Linked DNA regions of Homo sapiens. The protein of the gene in region 1 purifies or fractionates together with the protein of each later gene. This does not show direct contact. Each region holds a gene or a part of one and is shown in the gene's direction. Other genes may lie near its edges. The genes, in order: BICRA, SS18L1 and ARID1B.

Region 1 (3,724 bases):
AATCTGACTGGCATTTAAATTTAAGGCCAGGTGCCATGGCTCACACCTGTAACCCCAACACTTGGGGAGACCGAGGCTGGAGGATTGCTTGAGCCCTGGATTTTAAGACCAGCCTAGGCAACACGGTGAGACCCTGTGTCTACAAAAAATGAAAAAATTAGTTGGGCATGGTGGCACTCACCTGTGGTCCTAGCTACTTGGGGGTGCTGAGGTGGGAGGATTGCTTGAGCCTAGGAGTTTGAAGCTGGGGTGAGCCGTGATTGTGCCACTGCTCTCAAGCCTGGGCAAGAGTGAGACCCTGTCTCAAAAAAAAAAAATAAATAAAATAAAAAATGTAAAGGTGAGTGGCAGAATACCTTTGCCCCAGAAGAATTCCCTGTGGTCTGGGAAGGCCACCTGCAAACGAACAATTCCCCTTCAGTGACACGCACCCTCTGAGCGCTTTGGGGACTAGGCCCCTACCCCTTCAGCACTTTACCCATGCGGAATACATGCTTAGCTGTAGGGGCTGGGGGGCTGAGGGAGAGGGGCTGGGGGGCTGACGGAGAGGGGCTGGACCCAGCTCACCCAGTGTAGGAGGTAATACAGGTGATCTTGCCATTTTACAGATGGGGAAACTGAGGCCAGGGGAAGCATGTTCCACGGCCGAGCTGGGACTCCAAGCCAGACGGCAGAGACTAGTGGTGGGGGTTCCGTATTTGTCAACAGAACTGGGGAGATGGTGCTTCATGGGGTCTGATCCCAGGAGCTTTAAGGGACCCCTTATCCCCGCAGCCACTGTCCCCTCCTTTAAGTGCAGTTATTTCCCTTGGCGAGATGACAGGCATAAGTAATAAGAATTCTCGGGGGAGGTGGGCAGGAGGAGAGGGGCTGTGGGGACACCCAGATCTCTCAAGATTGAGTGCTGGCTGAATGTAGGAACTGATCTTTTTGGGGGGCTGGTGGGAGAAGTCCGAGTGAGGCCCTAGAGGGTCTCCCGGCTGACTTCCTTCTCAGAGGCCTGTGGCCCTTCCCTAACCTTCCTTCAGGAGGTGGGGTGTGCCCCAGGCTGTGGAAGGGCCAGGGGATCAGCACCCAGAGGCCTATGAAGGGGGAGTTCCTGGGGGTGTATAAGGCTCCCCAGGTTCCCGTGGGCCACCTTGTAGCCCAGGTCTAGCCAGCAGCCCAGTTCCCCCGCCAGCTCTCAACCCCCACCCGCCAGGCTGCCTTGACTCCAGGTCTCAAGAATGCAGAAGGCTGCTGGTAGGGGAAGTTAATTGGAAACAGGAAAACATGGCATTCCTTTCCAGGCCGCCTGGGCTTGGAAGGCAGAGGGGCTGCCATTTCCCTTCTCCCGCCCTGCAGGGGAGAGGGGTGGGGAGTATGGTTATCTTGCCCTGGTCATATTTGAGCTTTCTTCCCCGACCAGGCACCCTCACTTAGTAGAAACAAGAGCAGTCACCCGTGCCGTGTCCACGATGACAACTGCTGCCTGCTCCCCCAGCAGAAGAATTGCCCCCTCCTTACTCACCCCTTCATATCCCTCTGGTTTTTTGTCCCCTGTCTTGTCTGAGCTAGCTCCCTGGTAGGATGCACCTTATGCCACACTAGAGACGCATGGGGAGCGTTTGGTTGAGGGGTCCCCAGGGAGTGTCTCCTGGTTCCGTCCCTCGCATTCTCCTCTGCCTGGAGTACCACCAGTAGAGTTTTGTCCCAGTTGACTGAAGCTTTTGTGTCTCAGTGACACGCAAGTTTCCCCAGTGGAGAGGGAGAGTTTTCTAAGGCATTTCTAGTTTGGTGACAATTAGTTTTGTGTATGAGTGTATGTATTCATTGGGGGGAGGGGGAAAGGAGTGTTGGCACAAGCAGAGAAGGCCTTTGTTTCTTTAATTGTTCCCAATTAAACTTCCTGAGGGCCTACTGTGTGACAGGGCCCTGGGGATCAGTTAAGACCTTGGGACACAGTCCAGGAGGAGGAGAGAGAACGGTTGGATTAGCCGCTGTGGGGTTTCATTCATTCTGTCTGGGTGGTCTGAGACATCATCTTTTTCTCTGTCTGCCTTTTGTTCCTTTTGTTCTAAGTGATACACACACGGGGCAAATTCAGAACACTAAAGATGGTGTCTCTCCCTCTAACCTCTCCAGAATCCCTGGTCCCCTAGCTCTCTTCCCCAGAGACAGCACCTCCATTCTGATGTTCTGTGCATGTACTTTTATATATGGATGTTATGTGTTTAAAACTATTCAGGCCGGGCATGGTGGCTCACGCCTGTAATCCCAGCACTTTGGGAGGCTGAAGTGGGCAGATCACCTGCGGTCAGGAGTTCAAGACCAGCCTGGCCAACATGGTGAAACCCCATCTCTCCTAAAAATACAAAAATGAGCTGGGCATGGTGGTGCATGGCTGTAATCCCAGCTACTCAGGAGCCTGAGGCAGGGGAATTGCTTGAATGCAGGAGGCGGAGGTTGCGGTGAGCCGAGATTGCGGTAGCACTGCACTCCACTCCAGCCTGGGCGACACAGCGAGACTCTGTCTAAAACAAACAAACAGACAAACAAAAAACTATTCATCTTACACAGATGGTAGTCTGGTCTATGCATTGCTTTTTTTCCACGCTTCATCTCCCTGGGAGACCCTACCAATGTAGGTCTTCCTCTATCTTTTTCTTGGCTGCATGGTATTCCTCTGTGTGGGTGAATCCTCCTTTACTGTTATGGACGTGGAGGTGTTTCCAAAGGTTTCTGTGTGAAGCATGGGAAGGCATACGTCCGCACATGTTACAGGGAAATGAGTACGCCTGTGGGATAGACTCCTGGAAGTGGGATTGCTAGATCAAGGGCCAGTGATTTGTCTTTTGGTAGCTCTTACGGAGCACCTTTGATGTTGCACGTTGCATCTTTTTTTATTTTTTTGAGACAGAATCTTGCTGTGTCACCCAGGCTGGAGTGCAGTGGCGCCATCACTTTTCACTGCAGCATTATCCTTCCTGGGCTCAAGTGAGCCTCGCATCTCAGCCTCCCCAGTAGCTGGGACTACAGGTGCACGCCACCACGCCCAGGGAGTTTTAATATTTTTGGTAAAGACGAGGTCTCACTGTGTTGCCCAGGCTGGTCTTGAAATCCTGTTCAAGCACTCCTCCCGCCTTGGCCTCCCAATGTGCTGGGATTACAGGCGTGAGCCACCGTGCCCGGCCCCTCATGCTGCACCTTGAAGAAAGTTGTTCTCTTTCTCTCCTCTTCAATGTGATCCCACCTGTCGCCCAGGCAGCATCTCCAGGCTGCACGTGTCTTTGCCTCAGGTGACCTCCTTGTGTCTGATGACCTCCTTGCCTCTTCCTCCTGCTTATGGCCTGCGTCATGTGCTTGCCACCTGGTGTGGAGGTCAGGAGCGTGGGCTCTGGGCCCTGCCTGTTGGTTCTAATCCCAGTTCTGCTATTTGCTGGCTGAATGGCTGTGGACAGGGGACTTGCTTGGGGCCTTGGTTTTCCCCTCTATTAAGTGGGTTCATATCAGTACCTACTTGGTAAGGCTCTTGTGAGGGTCCCCAAACACCCATAAAGTGCCAAGGTAGCCTTGTCAGTCAGTGTCGGTGTCACCTGTCATTCTTAGGCAGTTTATTTCTCCTGGGGACTGTGACCCCCTTAATTGGCAGGTGTTGGATGGAATGCTGGCTTCTCTGCTTAATTGCAGTGTGACCCTGGGCAAGCAATTCCTTTGCATGGCCTCAGTTTCCTTGTCTATAAAA
Region 2 (3,724 bases), on another chromosome or scaffold:
GCAAGGCCAAGGCCAGCAGTACGGAAGCTACCGAGCACCGCAGACAGCGCCGTCTGCCCAGCAGCAGCGGCCCTACGGCTATGAACAGGCAAGCTTTCTGGATGTTTCCAGATGTGCCCATCCGCCGCGCCTGTCGAGACATAATGAAGATTTCTCTTATGGCCATGAGGAATAATGAGCTGGAACTAACTGGCTTCCAGGGTTCCTTCCAGAACGTTAAGTCTCTGAGCCTGTAAGGTTTTGCAGAATTGCCTCTGTGTATACGCTCACCTCAGTCATCCAGCTGGCTTTTCATACCCTAAGCTCACCGTTAGATCTGCACGCCTGGTTCTCACATTCATTCACTCTGCCAGTGTTTGTCACGTACTGGGTACGCGTCCGGTCTCTGCTGAGTGCTTGGTGTGTGGCCGCGACACGAACCCTGCACTTTTAGAGCTTATGTCTCGCTACAGAGACATAAGGTGGTCCCACAGGGCCAGACTGTGCTGAGGACAGAGCGGGGGGCCCCAAATGGAGCCCGCCTTCCAGATGGGGGCGCAGGCGACCGCATTTGGCCCGTGTGGGCAATTCCAGGACGAAGACACAGCGGGGAGTGGCTGGCAGCCCCAGGCTCAGCCTAGGGAGGGGGAAGCCCTTTCTGCCCAGGAACAGTGAGCAGGGCTTTGAAGGAGCTGAGGAAAGAGCAGCTTGGAAGATGGAAGAGCGGGAGCTCTCGGGACAGTGAGGAGGCCGGTGTGGCGGGAGGTGACAGGGACAGGTGGGCGTAGGGGCCTCCATAAAGCAGACATCGCTTTCCCTCTGAGTGGGATGGGGCCCCTGGAGGAGGACAGGGTCTGTGTGGTGGGAGCACTGCAGGAGCGAGGGCCTCCTAGAGGAGAATGAGCCAGGCAAGGGAAGAGGGCGTGCCAAGGTCCTGAGGCACCAGGAGGTTTGTCCCAGTGAAGGCAGCCTGAAGGAGGCTCGGTGGCTGGAGCACAGGGCATATGAAGGAGAATGGTCTGGGACATTTTTTGGAGCCTCCTTTGAGAGAGTCCTTAGCAGGAAGTGGCTCTGTGTTGGTGACTCTGAGGTGGCTGGAGGTGTTAGGGACACTTTACACTGCCAGTGAAATTTCAAAGCACTACATCGCTCAAGTTTGTTTTTCTCAGGGAATTGGGTAGGTAAGAGGCCAAAGACTGTTTTTTAAATGCTTCTCGTCCTCCTTCTTCAAGAGGGCAAAGGGTCACCAGGTAGATGTAGAGAAGCCTAAAGACCATGTAACACAGTCTCCCTGCCAGGGCACCGTACTCGGCCATGCCTGGGAAGGGCACGCTGATGAGGCATTTACACAGATGTCAGGAGGGCTCTGGTGTGCTCTCAGGACACTGTGAGGCCACTGTAGCCGACGCAGGGGCCGCCTCTCCCCAGTGTGTGCTGGGCGCTGGTCAGCGGGGAGCAGGCCCCAGCTTGGCCCTCCAGGTTTGCACAGGAGTGTCATGCTGGAGTCTGGAAGGACAGCAGTCTGCATCCTGATGTTAAATTAGAATTATATGTGAATGATTCTGATGAGACGCCATACCTCCTTCATACAGTCCTGAAAATAACTTATTTGGATTTTGTGAAATAAGTGAATGTCCTAACTTAATTATAAGACTGAACCAGAGGACATATAACTTTATACCTACCTATGAAAAGACCGTGACCGGTCGTGGTGGCCCATGCCTGTAATCCCAGCACTTTGGGAGGCCAAGGCAGGAGGATCACTAGAGCCCAGGAGTTTGAGACCAGCCAGGGTAACATAGCAAGACCTGTCTCTACAAAAAATAAAGTAGTCAGGCATGGTGGTGCATGCCTGTAATCCCAGCTACTTGGAAGGCTGAGGCACGAGGATCCCTTGAGCCCAGGAGGTCGAGGCTGTAGTGAGTCGTGATTGCACCATTACACTCCAGCCTGGGCTACAGAGAGCGAGACTTTGTCTTAAAAAAAGGAAAAAGAAAGGCCAGGCGTGGGGGCTTACACCTGTAATTCCAGCACTTTGGGAGGCTGAGGCGGGTAGATCACCTGCAGTCAGGAGTTGGAGAGCAGCCTGGCCAACATGGTGAAACCCCATCTCTGCTAAAAATACAAAAATTAGCCGGGTGCCTGTAAGCCCAGCTATTGGGGAAGCTGAGGTGGGAGAATCGCTTGAACCGGGAAGGCAGAGGTGAGTTGAGATCACGCCACTGCACCCCAGCCTGGGCGACAGAGAGACTCCATCTCAAAAAAAAGAAAAAGACACAGAGCAATGGGGAAGATAGAGAATAGAATTTCACATCTGGGGGGAAATGTGTCCATCTAACTGCAAAATATTAAGATAGCCTTTAGTCAGCATCCAGTGTAGCTGGCCGTGGCGCTTTGGCACAGCACTGCCGGCGCTGGGCGTCTCCTAGGGGCCATTGTGCACACTGTGTTATGTTTGCAGCACCCCTGGCCTCCACCACGATGCCAGTAGCACCCCCATTGCCCAGTCTGACAATTTAAAATGACTCCAGACATTGTCAGATGCCCCAGGGGCAAAACTGTCTCCGTTTGAGAACCACTGGGCTACACTTAAACATGTGCTGAGGCGGCCAGGCGCTGTGGCTCACGCCTATAGCACTTTGGAAAGCAGAGGCGGGCGGGAGCAGATAGAGACGGAGGTTGCAGTGAGCTGAGATCGCGCCATTGTATTCCAGCATGGGCAACAAGAGCGAAACTCTGTCTCAAAAAAAAAAAAAAGGTGCTGAGGCATTGGGGCTGCCAGTGGTTTTATAGGGCTCCAGGGCTGCCATGCCTTCAGCTGAGCAGCTCTGGATTTGAGGCTTTCCGTCTTACCCAATGGTGCAGGAGCAGAAAGACATCAGAACAGACTCCCACTAACTAGAATCATCACAGGCAGCTCTGGGAATGAGAATGTGACGTGTTCGGTCAGGCTGGAACAGCTTTCCTCCCTCCCCCACTTCCTCGCTGGGGGCATTCGGGAAATCTGATCATTAACTAGCTGGGGACACATGGAGAACAGGCATGCAGATGATGATCCGTTGTCTTCCCCTGTGGCAGTCTCCCGAGTGGCTTTCACCACAGGTCCGATGCTCCGTTTTGCTGCCCAAGGAATTCTGCCTTGTGGCCTTGTGGGGCACAGGCTCTCTAGTTTCTCTTCTTCATGTTGTTTTTTGTTGTTGTTTTTGAGATGGAGTCTTGCTCTGTTGCCCAGGCTGGAGTGCAGTGGCACGATCTCGCTCACTGCAGCCTCTGCCTCTCGGGTTCTAGCAATTCTCCTGCCTCAGCATCCGGAGTAGCTGGGATTACAAGCACGTACTATCACACCTGGCTAATTTTTGTATTTTTAGTAGAGACAGGGTTTCGCCATGTTGGCCAGGGTGGTCTCGAGCTCCTGACCTCAGGTGATCCTTCCAAAGTGCTGGGACTGTAATCCTACAGGCATGAGCCACTGTGCCTGGCCTTTTTTTTTTTTTTTTTTTTTAAGACAGGGTCTCACTCTGTCGCCCAGGCTGGAGTGCATTGGCAGGAACATGGCTCACCGCAGCCTCAACCTCCGGGGCATGCGCCACAACATGTGGCTTATTCTTTTTTTTTTTTTTTTTTTTTTTGAGACAAGGTCTCACTCTGTCACCCACACTGGAATACAGTGGCATGATCTCGGTTCACTGCAACCTCCACCTCTCAGGCCCAGTGATTCTCCTGCCTCAGCCTCCCAAGTAGCTGG
Region 3 (3,500 bases), on another chromosome or scaffold:
CGTGGCGTGTGATGATGTCCCTTAAATCAGGTCTTTTGGCTGAGAGTACGTGGGCTTTGGACACTATTAATATTCTTCTGTATGATGACAGCACTGTTGCTACTTTCAATCTCTCCCAGGTAAGCCAGCATAGTCCAACTAACAACCAAATTAGGATAGGAGAGCATCAGGCCATGCACATTTGTGCTTGAACTAATGCCTGAGTTGATGAGCACTGACCGTCCAACACTGTTAATCACTGCAGTTGTTATCAACCAGCCTTAATCAATGTAGAGTTATCTGGGATAATATTCACTGTAGTCTTTAGTGTGTGTACACACACATACCTCTATTTCTTATGAGAGAACAGTGACTGTGTGTGTATGTGTATATGGGATAGATGACAGTAGTAACATTAAATTGTTCAGAATGAATATTAGCTGGCCAATGGGAAGAAATCAAAATGTAACATTAAGTTGTGACTGGAGTCAGCATTGGAAACACAGTTGGTTGCAATGGGACATAACCCTGCTTTCCAGGAGGACTTGACATCTTCTTTTCATTAAAAAGATATTCAAGATTTAGAAATTTTATATTCTATACATTTATAGAATGTATAAATATATATAGAAGGAGAGAGAGCAGTTTAATGAACCCCCATGTACCTGTCAGTCAGCTAAAATAGTTATGAACTCATGGCTAAACTTACTTCTTAGTCTATGCTCTCTCATTTCTGCCTCTCTCCAGGTTATTTTGAAGCAGTCATGTAAAAGCCTACTACTTTTAATGAGCTTAAACCCCTCCTTTGTTCAGAGGTAGGCTTCAGGTAGCTTCCAGCATAATAGCTAGAAGAGAGGAGCACTGAAGTTTGGGGAAAATGCCCGAGTCCACTGGGCTATAGACTTTTAAAGAAATATTTAGAAATAAAAAATGGAAAAAGGTCATTTTCCCTATAGTATACAAACAACTCTCTACTTTGAGTGCAAAAACTAAAACACTTAATTTCCTTGCTTCTAAGGAAATAAGACCAGAATCTTCTACTTCTTTCTTCTCTCATTTAAGCCCTCATTATCAGCCTAGAAAGGCAATTTTTCAATTGCTAGAAAGTTTATTAATAAGGTCATAAACATTGTACGAGTTCTGTGTTAACAGAAAATAAGTATTTAAAAACTGTATACTGCATTTGCTAGAGTAATGCGCTTTCATCCTTATGTTAGGTGAACTGTTGTTGATCACATATTTGCATAACCAGAATTGCTTTATTAACTTTCCCTTTTCCCCTGGAAAAAAAAGGGAAAATGCCCTTGGAACATTGTGCCTTCAGCACACTAAAAGCAGTTCTTTCTAGTTGGTGCTGGGGGCTTCCCCTGACTTCTTAAAAATTGTTCCAACTCTACTTTCAAGAAACTGACAGTAGGATATGAAGGTATAGCTGATTTCCAGAACATCTACCGGGAAAGAATCCTTGTTAGAATCCTTGTTACTTACTCTTTAGAGTTCCTAAACATGGTGGGGGGTGTTGGGAGAGAGGGCAGTTGCTAATCGTGAAGTGTATTGGTTTTTTCTTGGTACAGTTGCTTAAAGGAAACCAAACTTGTTCTTGTAGTCAGTGGTTCTCTCATAGTGGTTTTTGCCTTTCAGCTAGAGTCATAAATAACTGAAATGTAAAATTGCATTTTATGAAACATTTTAATTTATTTATCATAGGCTAAATTGATTTGTTTTTAATTTTCAGTGTTCATGAGCTACCACATTGCTGAAATTATCTTCTCCAAAAGATATATAGAGAACATAAATTAGGGTGACCTATGGTACCTGAGACAAAAATAACCATAAAATCCTAAGAATAACAACCATAAAAATCCCGGCAAGCAAGTCTCAGATAAATAATAGAAGAGAACAGAGTCACTTTGGGCAAAAGAGTCTATAAAATCCATGTTCCCACTCTTCTAATAATGAGTACATTGTCTCTAAATCAGGAACAGAAAGGTAAAGAACAGCAAGGCACTCCCTCAGTGATAAGATTAGAGATATGAGAATAAAAAGTAAGTTTTCGTGTAGATAGTCTAAGCAAGGAAGCAGCAAATAAGGAACATGCTAAACATCGGTTTAGTTTATACTGTAAAATTCAGGAAGTTCGCTGGACCTGAAGGGTAGTTTATCTTTCATGGTCCAGCCAAAAAGGGAGACAAACGTGTGACAATGATGGAAAGGTATTGACGGGTCTCAGGATCTTTACCCTCCTCGGTCATATCTGATGTCATGACATTGTACCTGTTCTTTCTTTCTTCTCCTCCTCCTCCTCTCCAGTTGTCTGGATTTCTCGAACTTTTAGTCGAGTACTTTAGAAAATGCCTGATTGACATTTTTGGAATTCTTATGGAATATGAAGTGGGAGACCCCAGCCAAAAAGCACTTGATCACAACGCAGCAAGGAAGGATGACAGCCAGTCCTTGGCAGACGATTCTGGGAAAGAGGAGGAAGATGCTGAATGTATTGATGACGACGAGGAAGACGAGGAGGATGAGGAGGAAGACAGCGAGAAGACAGAAAGCGATGAAAAGAGCAGCATCGCTCTGACTGCCCCGGACGCCGCTGCAGACCCAAAGGAGAAGCCCAAGCAAGCCAGTAAGTTCGACAAGCTGCCAATAAAGATAGTCAAAAAGAACAACCTGTTTGTTGTTGACCGATCTGACAAGTTGGGGCGTGTGCAGGAGTTCAATAGTGGCCTTCTGCACTGGCAGCTCGGCGGGGGTGACACCACCGAGCACATTCAGACTCACTTTGAGAGCAAGATGGAAATTCCTCCTCGCAGGCGCCCACCTCCCCCCTTAAGCTCCGCAGGTAGAAAGAAAGAGCAAGAAGGCAAAGGCGACTCTGAAGAGCAGCAAGAGAAAAGCATCATAGCAACCATCGATGACGTCCTCTCTGCTCGGCCAGGGGCATTGCCTGAAGACGCAAACCCTGGGCCCCAGACCGAAAGCAGTAAGTTTCCCTTTGGTATCCAGCAAGCCAAAAGTCACCGGAACATCAAGCTGCTGGAGGACGAGCCCAGGAGCCGAGACGAGACTCCTCTGTGTACCATCGCGCACTGGCAGGACTCGCTGGCTAAGCGATGCATCTGTGTGTCCAATATTGTCCGTAGCTTGTCATTCGTGCCTGGCAATGATGCCGAAATGTCCAAACATCCAGGCCTGGTGCTGATCCTGGGGAAGCTGATTCTTCTTCACCACGAGCATCCAGAGAGAAAGCGAGCACCGCAGACCTATGAGAAAGAGGAGGATGAGGACAAGGGGGTGGCCTGCAGCAAAGATGAGTGGTGGTGGGACTGCCTCGAGGTCTTGAGGGATAACACGTTGGTCACGTTGGCCAACATTTCCGGGCAGCTAGACTTGTCTGCTTACACGGAAAGCATCTGCTTGCCAATTTTGGATGGCTTGCTGCACTGGATGGTGTGCCCGTCTGCAGAGGCACAAGATCCCTTTCCAACTGTGGGACCCAACTCGGTCCTGTCGCCTCA

What was found.
Region 2: the proteins of BICRA (region 1) and SS18L1 purify together in Homo sapiens (affinity purification with mass spectrometry, with the first as the bait; one large-scale study listed by BioGRID). This does not show direct contact.
Region 3: the proteins of BICRA (region 1) and ARID1B purify together in Homo sapiens (affinity purification with mass spectrometry, with the first as the bait; one large-scale study listed by BioGRID). This does not show direct contact.

Annotation. Positions count from the first base shown.
Region 1 is NC_000019.10:47,612,109-47,615,832, forward strand, and holds part of BICRA (BRD4-interacting chromatin-remodeling complex-associated protein), read left to right. Parts: intron 1-3,724. UniProt on the Homo sapiens protein: Component of SWI/SNF chromatin remodeling subcomplex GBAF that carries out key enzymatic activities, changing chromatin structure by altering DNA-histone contacts within a nucleosome in an ATP-dependent manner.
Region 2 is NC_000020.11:62,174,557-62,178,280, forward strand, and holds part of SS18L1 (calcium-responsive transactivator), read left to right. Parts: coding exon 1-88; coding exon of another isoform or gene 89-175; exon of another isoform or gene 176-1,762; intron 1,763-3,724. UniProt on the Homo sapiens protein: Transcriptional activator which is required for calcium-dependent dendritic growth and branching in cortical neurons. Recruits CREB-binding protein (CREBBP) to nuclear bodies.
Region 3 is NC_000006.12:157,203,878-157,207,377, forward strand, and holds part of ARID1B (AT-rich interactive domain-containing protein 1B), read left to right. Parts: coding exon 1-119; intron 120-2,289; coding exon 2,290-3,500. UniProt on the Homo sapiens protein: Involved in transcriptional activation and repression of select genes by chromatin remodeling (alteration of DNA-nucleosome topology).